Regions from separate parts of the Homo sapiens genome. Here region 2 is linked to region 1. The links come from fine-mapping of genetic effects on gene expression. Tissue or cell type: whole blood. Region 1 holds a variant in brackets; the other region holds the start of a gene. All regions are shown on one strand. Distances are between the middles of the regions.

Evidence for each region. PIP is the estimated chance that this variant, and not a neighbour inherited with it, causes the effect.
Region 2: it holds the start of PVT1, and the variant in region 1 is fine-mapped to the expression of PVT1 in whole blood (INTERVAL, PIP above 0.99).

The regions. Positions count from the first base shown.
Region 1 is chr8:127,990,618-127,996,352 of GRCh38, reverse strand. All of the region lies in intron 4 of PVT1 (Pvt1 oncogene), which reads right to left. Among named protein-coding and RNA genes, the nearest start is that of MIR1206, 15 kb to the left of the region's middle. RefSeq lists enhancers at 3,057-3,556, 3,262-3,591, 3,557-4,058. The variant C/A (reference allele first, on the strand shown) is at 2,763.
Region 2 is chr8:127,792,034-127,796,830 of GRCh38, reverse strand. PVT1 (Pvt1 oncogene) reads right to left here and starts at 2,307. Exons shown (of 9, transcript NR_190187.1): 1 at 2,097-2,307. It overlaps MIR1204 (microRNA 1204), which reads right to left and starts at 869; the gene lies at 803-869. RefSeq lists enhancers at 832-1,171, 1,272-1,321, 1,043-1,614, 1,615-2,184, 3,327-3,897 and silencers at 2,302-2,461, 2,472-2,531, 2,552-2,601.

The sequences.
Region 1 (5,735 bases):
AGCAGAAGGACACAAATTACCAGCAGAGTCATTATTACTCACAGCAATTCAGGCCCAGGGTCTATGTGGTGCAGGGTTTCTGAAAGCCGGCCTATACCTGGGAAGGAGGGAGAGAACCAGAGGCCTGGATGCTGGGTGGAGGTTCTGTGATTTACTTTGTTACAAATTTAAGAATAAAACCTGCTGGATCAGGAGCTTTTCCTATCTCCTCAAATAAACCTGGATCCCAAGAGGAACAGAAAGGAGAAAGGTGAGTGTGGGAGAGGAATTGGAGTGCAAGCTCAGAGGTCCTTGAGGGAGGGAGGAGAAGGTGTCTGCTTTGGGGAATGGCAATAAGAGGTATGTTGGGATGGAGATACCCAAATGTGTAGCACTTATACCGATTTAGCAAATGGTCCTCTCATTAGCAAAAGCTTCTAAACATTAGCCTTAAGTTTAAAAAAAAAAAGGACATTTGAAATTATGCAAAAGCCCAGAGCACCAATATGCGCTTCACATACGTTCCGCAGGAAGATTCCTTCATTTGCAAACTGGAGTATATTACGTAATCATTTCCATTTCCTGGCAGGTTGTGAAGAGTAAATGACATCATATAATGTAAAGTGCTTGAAACACCATGAATAATACATTTGAGCTATTACTATTTTTACCATGATTACTGGTAGATTAAAAGCAGTCTCTTCATGGCCATCTTGATTACTACTAGTACTAACACGACCATCACCGCAAACACTACTACTACTATAAGGATAGTACTTTATTAGCGGTGCTTAATAGAATCTATTATAATTCTCAATACTTAGCATATTTCAGGAGGAAAACTGACTGACGGACTGATATAATGCACAATTAAAGAAATGAACAAAGAAATGGATAGATTCCTATAATGTGGGGGGTGTATCTTAAAAGAAAAGCAGTCCAATAGGTTTCAAAGAGCAAAACCAGGAGTCAAGAGCTGTCTCTAATCCCAGGAGCCGGATGCTGTGAACACAGGAGTGTTCAATAAATACCTAACTGATGTCTGAGCAAGGAAGAGACAAAGAATGACAACAGTCAATTGGGCTTAGCTTAGATAAACACTCAAAGCCAGGATACAGACAGAACAGGACAAGAGTGGCTCTTACAGTCACTTGATTCAGGGTCCTTGTTTTAATGATGGGGCTGTGAAGGATCAAAGGGGTCAGCTGGGGCTCAACACTCAAAGGGCAGCTTTGGGCCAAGTCAATCAAACCAGCCTGGTGAGCTGAGATGCACGTTACCCAGTAAATACAGGTATTGGGATAGACTGTGTCTCTGCAGTGTGATGGTTAATTTTGTGTGTCAACTTGACTGGGCCACAGGATTTCCAGAGAGCTGGTTAAACAGCATTTCTGAGTATGTCCAGATGAGATTATCACTTCAACCAGGAGACTGAGTAAAGCAGATGGTCCTCTTCAATGTGGGTTGGGCCTCATTCAACCCACTGAAGGCCTGAATAGAACAGAAAGGCACAGGAAGGTTGAATTTCATCTCTGCCTGATTGCTTGTTCTGGGACATCGATCTTCTCCTGCCCTTGGCATTCCTGGTCCTCAGGCCTTCGAATCTGGACTGGAATCTACACTACAGGTTCTCCAGCCCTCTGCCCTTTGTGACACGACAGCTGTTTCCTAGGTCTCCAGCCTGCAGGTGGCAAATCACAGGACCCCTCTGGGTCCATAATTGCATGAGCCAATACCTTATAATAAATAAATCTCCTAGATATAGATATAAATATCAAGGTAGATATTGATATAGACATGGATACGCATCTATCTTCATGTTCTATTGGTCCTGTTTCTCTGGAAAGCCCTGACTAATACATCTGTATATTTTGAAGGCTTTAAAGAAGGACAAAGCTCTTTTTTATCCACTCTGTTAACTCCTCATAGCCTATCTCAGCAACTGACTCATAACAGGAAAGTGGACAAGGGCAGAGAGGACAGGAGGGAATGGCTACCTCCTGCCAGTCACCACACAAGGTGCTGGGGAGGTGGGTTCAGTGAGACCCAAGGCTCTGCTCCCAGGGAAAGTTGGAGAGATCGTGTTTCCAGGCGAGATCCCAAACACAGCCCCCATCAGCAGAACCCGTCCCACAAGAGGCACTGTAGAGAGAAAGATCCTCATTTTCAGAAGAAACAGAGCTGAAAGAAGGGACTAGGAGTGGGCAGAGGACAATGGTGGAGAAGGAGAGACAGTTGGAGAGGGGGTGAGGAGCAGCACAAGAGAGTACAGAGAATGTGCTGGGAGAACAGGCAGGCACAGGGCAGGTTTAAGGGATTCAGAAGACTCATGTCCTGATTTGGGAGCCACCATCCATGAGCAGGGGGGATCTCAAGCAATGCAATTGCTCCAAGCCTCCAGTCCCTTCATCTGTGAAATTCTGGCATCCATGAAGCTAGCTTCACTCCCTGTGATTCCTTCAGAGAAAGCACAGTGGCTTTTCTCCTTTATTCTAGGCACCCTGCACAGTGGCACACTGCAGGTTCTCGTTCGATATTTGTGCAATACAAGAAAGGAGAAAGGATGAGAAATCACTTTATAAACTGTAAAGTCCTGGGCAGATGACAGGGCTGCCTTTGTTTCTTAAGGCAGACTGGGGAGCTTCTGAAAGGGGAATACTTTCTTCCTCACTTTGCCTTTCCAGCCCCAAGTCAGTGTCCTGAATTCAGTTAACTCAAGAAAACGTTCTCCAAGCATGTCCTATGTGCTGTCAAAATGCCAAAAGCTGGAAGCAGACAGAGAA[C/A]AAGACCTAGACCCTGCAATCCAGGGGAGAAGAGCTGATGTTCAGGAAAGTGAAATGCTGCTTCTGGAGACAGAATAAATCCCCCCGGAGAGAGGATAAGAATTGACTATTCTAAAGCCCAGCCTTTCCTCAAAACCATAATGATAATCATCACCCATAGTGACAGCTACGGTGGGTGGTCACCTGTGTGGCTGGCTGCTAGATGAGCTGGACTGAAAGAGACTCAGAAATGCTTTCGTTTTCAGGTGGTGGCGCAGCCACTGCTCCCCGACTGGGCCTAGTGCATTGCAGACATCACGGAGGAAGCTCCGTGTCTGTGGGTGTGACGGTGTATGATCAGTGAAAGATGTTATCAGAAGAAAAAAAGTTGGGCACATTTTCCCCTAGACTTACTAATCCTTCCTCTGCAATTACCCTCATGTTTTGACATTAATTGAACTCTGTCTTTATTACTAAAAATAAACTCCAGGGCAATTGCAATGCACCAAAAACCTCAGTATGAAACCACAAGAAACAGTAATAGAGAAATGGGCCAATACCAGAGGTGTTTTGAGAAGATGTTTCTGTTTCAAGCGTAGAGTTCCGAGTGGGCCAGGAGTTCTTTAAAATCCTGTGGACACCAAGTACAGGAAGCAATCTTTACACACATACCTTGTGGCGAAAGACCGGTGCTGGCTTGTATCCCTTGACAGGGAAGCAGGAGCCTGCTGATGCGGTGTCACCAAAGGCCAGGAGGCCAGCATGACCAGTGTGGCAGTATCAGGCAGGGAGCCAGCAGATGACACCAGGGGAAGGCAAGGCCAGAAGAGGAGTCCAAAAGAGCAAAGTGAAGGTCTAAAGGGAAGAAGCCCATCCTGTCTGCATATCCAGGGAGCAGGGCCAGGGGTGAGCAAGAATGACACTGAGAGGGTCAGGAGCTAGACAGGTCAGGAGCTGGAAGGAGAAACAAACAGGCTCCTGTTCATTGCCCATTTCCTCGGGCAAGGTTCCGTCATCCTCACAACCAGACCAAGTGGCTTCTGGTCCATGATGTGGCTGGGAAAATTGAAGTCTGGCTGGGTGTGTGGTGTGTGCCTATAGTACTAGCTACTCAGGAGACTGAGGTGGGAGGATTGCTTAAGCCCAGGGATTGGAGGCCAGCCTGGGCCACATAGCTAAGACCCTGTCTTTAAAAAAATAAAAGAAAAAAATTTGTACGTGTGTTTTGAGACAGAGTCTTGCTCTGTTGCCCAGGCTGGAGTGCAGTGGCACAATCTTGGCTAACTACAACTCTGCCTCCCAGTTTCAAGTGACTCTTGTGCCTAAGCCTCCCAAGTAGCTAGGATTACAGGCGTGTGCCACCATGCCTGGCTAATCTTTGTATTTTTAATAGAGACAGGGTTTCACCATGTTGGCCAGGCTGGTCTCGAACTCCTGGCCTCAAGTGATTAGCCCACCTCAGCCTCCCAAAATGCTGGAATTACAGGCGTGAGCCACTGTGCCTGGCAAGAAATTTTTTTCCTTTTTTTTTTTTTTTGTTTTAAGAAAGAGAGAAGTTTGAAAAGCTGTAAAAGACTTGCCCAGAGTCAAATAGGCAGTGGGAAGTGGAGCCTGGGGTAGACCCTAAGTGTCTGACTCCGTGTTCCTGGTGCCTTTGCTGCACAGCAGGCAACAGTCCCGACTCATGGGTGGGAAAGGTGAGGATGCCCTCCTATTGGTGTGCGTCCCAGCCAGGCTGATTTCTAGACAGGTACAGACAGGCAGGCTCCCAGTGTGAGAAGTGCCTTTAGGACAAGTAGAACTGCACACATAGATGCAAATGCCTGGGCCTTTCTTCAGGTTCTGTCATAGAACAGACTGCCTGAGGCCATGCTCAGGACTGCGGGCCTCAGAAACCCAGCACTTGCCCCTGCTCTGTCTTTCTGCTCCCAGCAGCTGAATTCTAGGGAAATGTCTCTCCGTCACCCCACCCCGAGACAGACCTGCCAAGCTTCTGGCTTTCAGATTCTCTGCCACATGACTGAGGTCCCATCAGCCCTTTTCCCCAATATGAGAATAGCTTGTTCCAGCCCTCCAGGTGCAGCAGGGCATGGGGATCAGCTGGAAAGGCTGCTACACCTGTATGCTCTCCTGCTCCCTAAGCCTGCCTCAGAAGCATGGGCTCCCAAGACATAATTCAGTGACTGTCCCTGAGGGTCAAAAAGAGCTACGAGGCCAAGGCGGGCAGATCACAAGGTCAGGAGATCAAGACTATCCTGGCTAACACAGTGAAACCCCGTCTCTAATAAAAATACAAAAAAAAGTAGCCAGGCGTGGTGGTGGGCACCTGTAGTCCCAGCTACTCAAGAGGCTGAGGCAGGAGAATGGCGTGAACCCGGGAGGTGGAGCTTACAGTGAGCCGAGATTGCGCCACTGCACTCCAGCCTGGGTGACAGAGCAAGATTCCGTCTCAAAAAAAAAAAAAAAAAAAAGAAAGAAAAGAAAAAAAAGAGCTACGTAGGGCTCCCAAGGAAGACTTGTCAGCTGTAGACATACATTGCAGTAGCAGAAGTGAGAAATTCAACAATGATACGAAAATGAATGCGTAATATGAATGCACAAAGGTGCTGAGCTCTAAACAATGGAAAGGATTTTTAATTACTAAACAGCAGCTCAGCTCCCAGTATGCTTTATTCACAAGCATCTTTCAAGAGTCACGAGAGGCAGCACCTGCTCCAGGAAGCCTCCCGGCATGGAGAAAATCCCCTCCACCATCCTCACAGACACCTAGGGAGTATGTAGTATCCTATGTGTGCCAGTATCCCCACCTTGACTGAAGGGCAAGGCCTCATGCTCTTCACCTCTGCATGCCACAGGAATGCTGACTATCACAGCAGATTTGAAACGCAAATGCGCTTTTGAAAATTTAAGGCACAATACAAAAGATGAAGATGACATATGTAGCACAACAGAAGTACAGTTCTCTGCTATGCTCTCAGTTCTGACTTCTCTGTC
Region 2 (4,797 bases), 200 kb after region 1:
AAGGAAATGCAAAATAAAAAGGCCACACATCCAGAAGGGCCACCTGATATAAAACAAATAGCAAAGGGGCAGCCATCAGCAGGCCTGCCACTGCCTCTCCAGACGACCTGGACCGGCAACTATCCAAAGTCTTCCACTTCCCCCAGATATTCTGCCAATACTCTGCCCAAATGCAGGGCCACTCACACAAACAGGAGGAAAGAACAGGGTGTCTTATAGTCCAGGAGATCTCTTGACAAAGCTGCCAGAGAAACGTGTCCATCTTGGGCAGGCAGAAGGCCCAGGCATGGCAAACACAGGCTCCAGAATCCAGCCAGAGTGCCTGCCTACCGCTCAGGAGGCGGAAAAAAAAAACAACTAAAGAACAGGGAATTGATTTGATGTGGGCAGTGAGAATTCACCAGGTTTTCAGACCAGCAATCATATAAACTAGTGGGGATCAGATATGTCAGAACAGAGGGGAGAACTCCTCCTTTCCAGTGCAGAAAAGCTCCAGCCACAGAAACACAGCATGGAGGTGGCGAGGGGCGGGGGAAGGTGTTTAAGACAGAGGAAAAGGAAAGTTAATCAGAAAAAAAACAAAACAAAACAAAAACGGACTTCTATTTTTCAAGAGAAGCCGTTTATGCAAAAATTCTGCACTCAAGATAGATGAGGCAACAAGAATAAGCCACTCTTAACCAGGCAAAACAGCAACACAACCACTTAACAAATCCCTCTGGGAATTCAATGGGTACAGCATATACCCCACAGTCATACCCGTAAGTGGAATTCCAGTTGGGCCCTTGTGCCGAAGCTTTAGACCACGAGGCACGTCCTCACCTCCAAGATGTAACTCATCTCAAATAATGGAGACCAGGCCACGAGGTTTCTCCCAGACACGGATTCTGTATTTGTCCTTCTGCAGCTTCCGGGAAGGTTTTTCTCCTAATAAATCCTGTAGAAAGTTCCACTCAGGGTTCTGAGGATTGATACAACCCCCTTCTTGACTGATCAGAGCTTTAGAAAGATTCGCTATGACCACAGGACTGTGTCAAGTTGAACAAGTCTCAACTTGTCGCTGCCAGTATGCAAAATAGGTCTGAAACATCTTATAACAGACAACACAGCAGACACAGTCCCTGCATCCTCAGGGCCCCCGCCCACCCACCACACACAAACACATTTCTCTAGAGTTTTTTTTTCCTAGCAAGGAACTAGCCCCAGTAGCCAGGATTCACAGTGGTGGAGTGGGCGAGAGACAGGCTAACAGCCTCTCTCTGGAAAACCTAATACCAGAAAGGAAACACCAAAACCTCATCCTCTTGTCCCTAAATCCTTGCACGTGATTTCTTCTCCTCTCTAATGTTCTAGAAGGGCCTAAAGTCAGGAGCTTAGATGAACAGAAGAATCTTCCATGCCTGCAAACCACCAGGAAAAGGCATGAGGCATCCACACACAGACGCATGCAGCTTCATGGCTGTGCTTCCTGAAAGTCTACACCCAGAACCACAAACACTGGCATAAATAAGAGCACGTTAGCAAGAGAAGGCAAACCTAATTAAATCAACAGCCCAGCCAAGAAGAATGACCATGATGAGGGTTTAGGAGCACCCAACAAACCCTCACATGCGATGCAAAAACTGAGAAAGTCTCAAAACACGGAGTTACTGAGTTTTTGGAAATCACCTTCGCCCAGCCCTGAGGGGGTGTGAGAGGAAGCGGGGAGTGATGGTCAAAGGATGGAGGGAGGATCACACATTCACAGACCTCTAGTTTCGCCAGAGGGGCCTCCAAACCACATCATGGCTCCAAATCTGTTCTGACTGCAGAGGGGTCTATTTTTAGAAATTAGTTAATATGCCTTTGATCAAGTTCATAAATCCAGAATTGCCTCTATGCACCGGCCATTCGGTGTCATCCCCCTCCCCTCACCCTCCCCAAACGCCCAAACTCGCCACCAGTCTTGAGGCTGGTGATGAGGACAGTGCACGCCTAGCACACACATATTGGATTCCGAAAGCCCCTTTCCTCCGTCCGACTACTCACAGCGCATCCCTACTCAGGGCCAAGTCTCGAGAGTTTCCAGAAACGCAGGGGACAAAATTGGAACTTACTGGAGGGCAGATCTGGCCGTGTCTCCACAGGTCACAGGGACCGCCAACATCCTTTCCGCAAGGAAATCCACTGGAAGGTGCCGGGGGTCCCGGGGCACATCTTTGCTCGCAGCTCGTCGTCGCCCCTCCTCGTCCCGGCCGCCCCGAGCCCGCCCGGCCCGCGGGCCCATGTGCTCGGCCGCCACACGCGCTCTGCCCGGAGGAGCGCGGGGCTGGCGGGTTGCCCGTGACGTCACGGCGGCTCGCGCTCGGGCCTCGGGGGAGGGGGGAGGCGCGCGCGGCCCGGCCCGCCGCGTGCGTCCTCGGTCCCGGCGCTCCCGGCCTTCCCCAGGTCCCCGCCCGCCGCCCGGTGCGCCCCTCAGCCTGCTTCCCGGCAGCGCAGGGCACTGAGCCGGAGAGGGCCGCGCGCGGAGGCGGGGCGGGCTTGGGCGACTGCGGCCGCCAAGGGCCCAGACTGGGGGAGCGGAGGGTAGGCTCTGCCCTGGGCTGGGGGTCCTCGCTACAAGCGCGCCGGAGTCCCACCGGGCCGGAGGGAATCCCCGGTGATGCCAGCTCGCTTGTGCGCCGAGCTTTCCACGGTCTTTCCCTGAGCCCTCTTACCCTTCCCCACACCGTCCTGGAAGCAAGCGGTCTTCCCACTTTCCTGCTGAGGAAGGCGAGTTCAGTGAAATAGGAGGGCCAGAGATGCTCCGGGATAGGTGCAGTTCCCGCAGAAGACCGCCGACTGAGCTCCAGCTCCAGTGATCTGAGCGCCTCTTTGGGTACCACCCAGCATCCGCCGGCCTGGTGAGAAGGGCGCGCGCACCTTCTCGCCTCCTTCGACGTCTCCCGCTGTTTCCAGAAGCCGAGTTGCAAACCCGTGCAGAGGGCCAGCGGTCTGCGCAGCTCCCTCCACTCCGGGCAGAGTTGACCTACAGAGTGTGTTCAACGAGTCCCTTAAATGCCCAGTAGTTCCTCCAAAGGAGCAAGTGGACACTGGCCTCCCATGTGGGATGTGGTTATCTTGTTCTATCTGCATAAACCCGAGACTGGACAGATGTAAGAGCTGCCCCTGTTCAGTTCAAAGTTTATTTTATTTATTTATTTATTTATTTATTTATTTATTTATTTAGAGATGAAGTTTCACTCTGTCACCCAGGCTGGAGTGCAGTGGCCCGATCATGGCTCACTGCAACCTCCGCCTGCCTGGTTCAAGCGATTCTCCTGCCTCAGCCTCCGGAGTAGCTGGGATCACAGGCGCGCGCCACCACGCCCAGCTAATTTTTGTAATTTTAGCAGAGACAAGGTTTCACCATGTTGGCCAGGCTGGTCTCGAACTCCGAACCTGAGATGATCCACTCGCTTCGGCCTCCCAAATTGCTGGGATTACAGGCGTGAGCCACCACGCCAGCGCCCGTCCAGTTCAACGTCTACTGAGCACTTAAGGGGAGTCAGGCACCCAGCTAGGCAATGGGGTGGGGGTTACTCATGGACCCTAGAAGGACGTCACAAACCAGCAAAAATTGGACACACAAATGGGTGGTATCAATATTACGGAACAGAAGGTTGCCCCTCTTCTCCCCTGCCGGCTACCCTACATCCTACTCACTCCAACCTACCCGGAGGCTCCTCCCTCTTTCTGTGTAGTGTTTCATCACATCTCTTCCCGTGGCGGCTTCTCAACGCAAATGTTCTTATTTGAAAAAGAAAAAACAATTACTCAGTTGATGCTCCTGTTCTGCCTGTTTCACAGATTCATTTACACTCATGGGCATCTCTTTTGTGCCTGGCTCCTTGCCAGGAGCTGGACAAGTCTCCGCTTTGTGCCTGGCTCTCTGTGAGGGGCTGGACAGGTGTCTGTTTTGTGCCTGGCTCTCTGTGAGGGGCTAGACAGGTGTCTGTTTTGTGCCCGGCTCTGAGAGGGACTGGGCAGGTGCCTGAGCTGCAGTTGGCATCTAGTTGTCATCCATCTTTTAAAATATAAAAAGAAGATGATGAGAAACCTCTGCATCTATACATCATGCGATAGGAGCTGTGAGACCTTAATCCTTTCACTGCTTAATCATTTTTTCCAGAAACCAAAGGCTGTGACCTTGAGGAAGCCAGTGTCCTCCTGGGGGATGCTGGTGGGCTATGAGAGGACCAGCTTCTAATGGCAGACGTCTCTGTCCATGTCCTGACAGTTGATGCCCAGTCCCTTCTGCATGGAAAATCTCCCCTGGCTGAAAAGACACTTTCACCCAGGACTCACTCAACTTTGACCTTGATGCTGTTTGCCCTCTCTGGGTCTCCAGCTCTCATGCACTAATCTTAGATTCACATTTTCCTTTTTATTAATTTCTTTTTTAGAATTAAAACATTTTTTCAGTAAAAATACAAAGAAAAAATAATATTTTAATATTCCTACCATCCAAAATAAACATTTTGGTATATCTGCTTTTGTTTTGTTTTGTTTGTTTGTTTGTTTGTTTGTTTGTTTGTTTTTAAATGGAGTCTTGCTGTGTTACCGGGCTTGAATGCAGCAGCTCAATCTCGGCTCACTGCAACCTCCACCTCCTGGGTTTAAGCGATTCCCCTGCCTCAGCCTCCCATGTAGCTGGGACTACAGGCGTGCGCCACCATGCCCTGCTAATTTTTTGTATTTTAATAGAGACGGGGTTTCACCATGTTGGCCAGGATGGTCTCGATCTCCTAACCTCGTGATCCACCCGCTTCAGCTTCC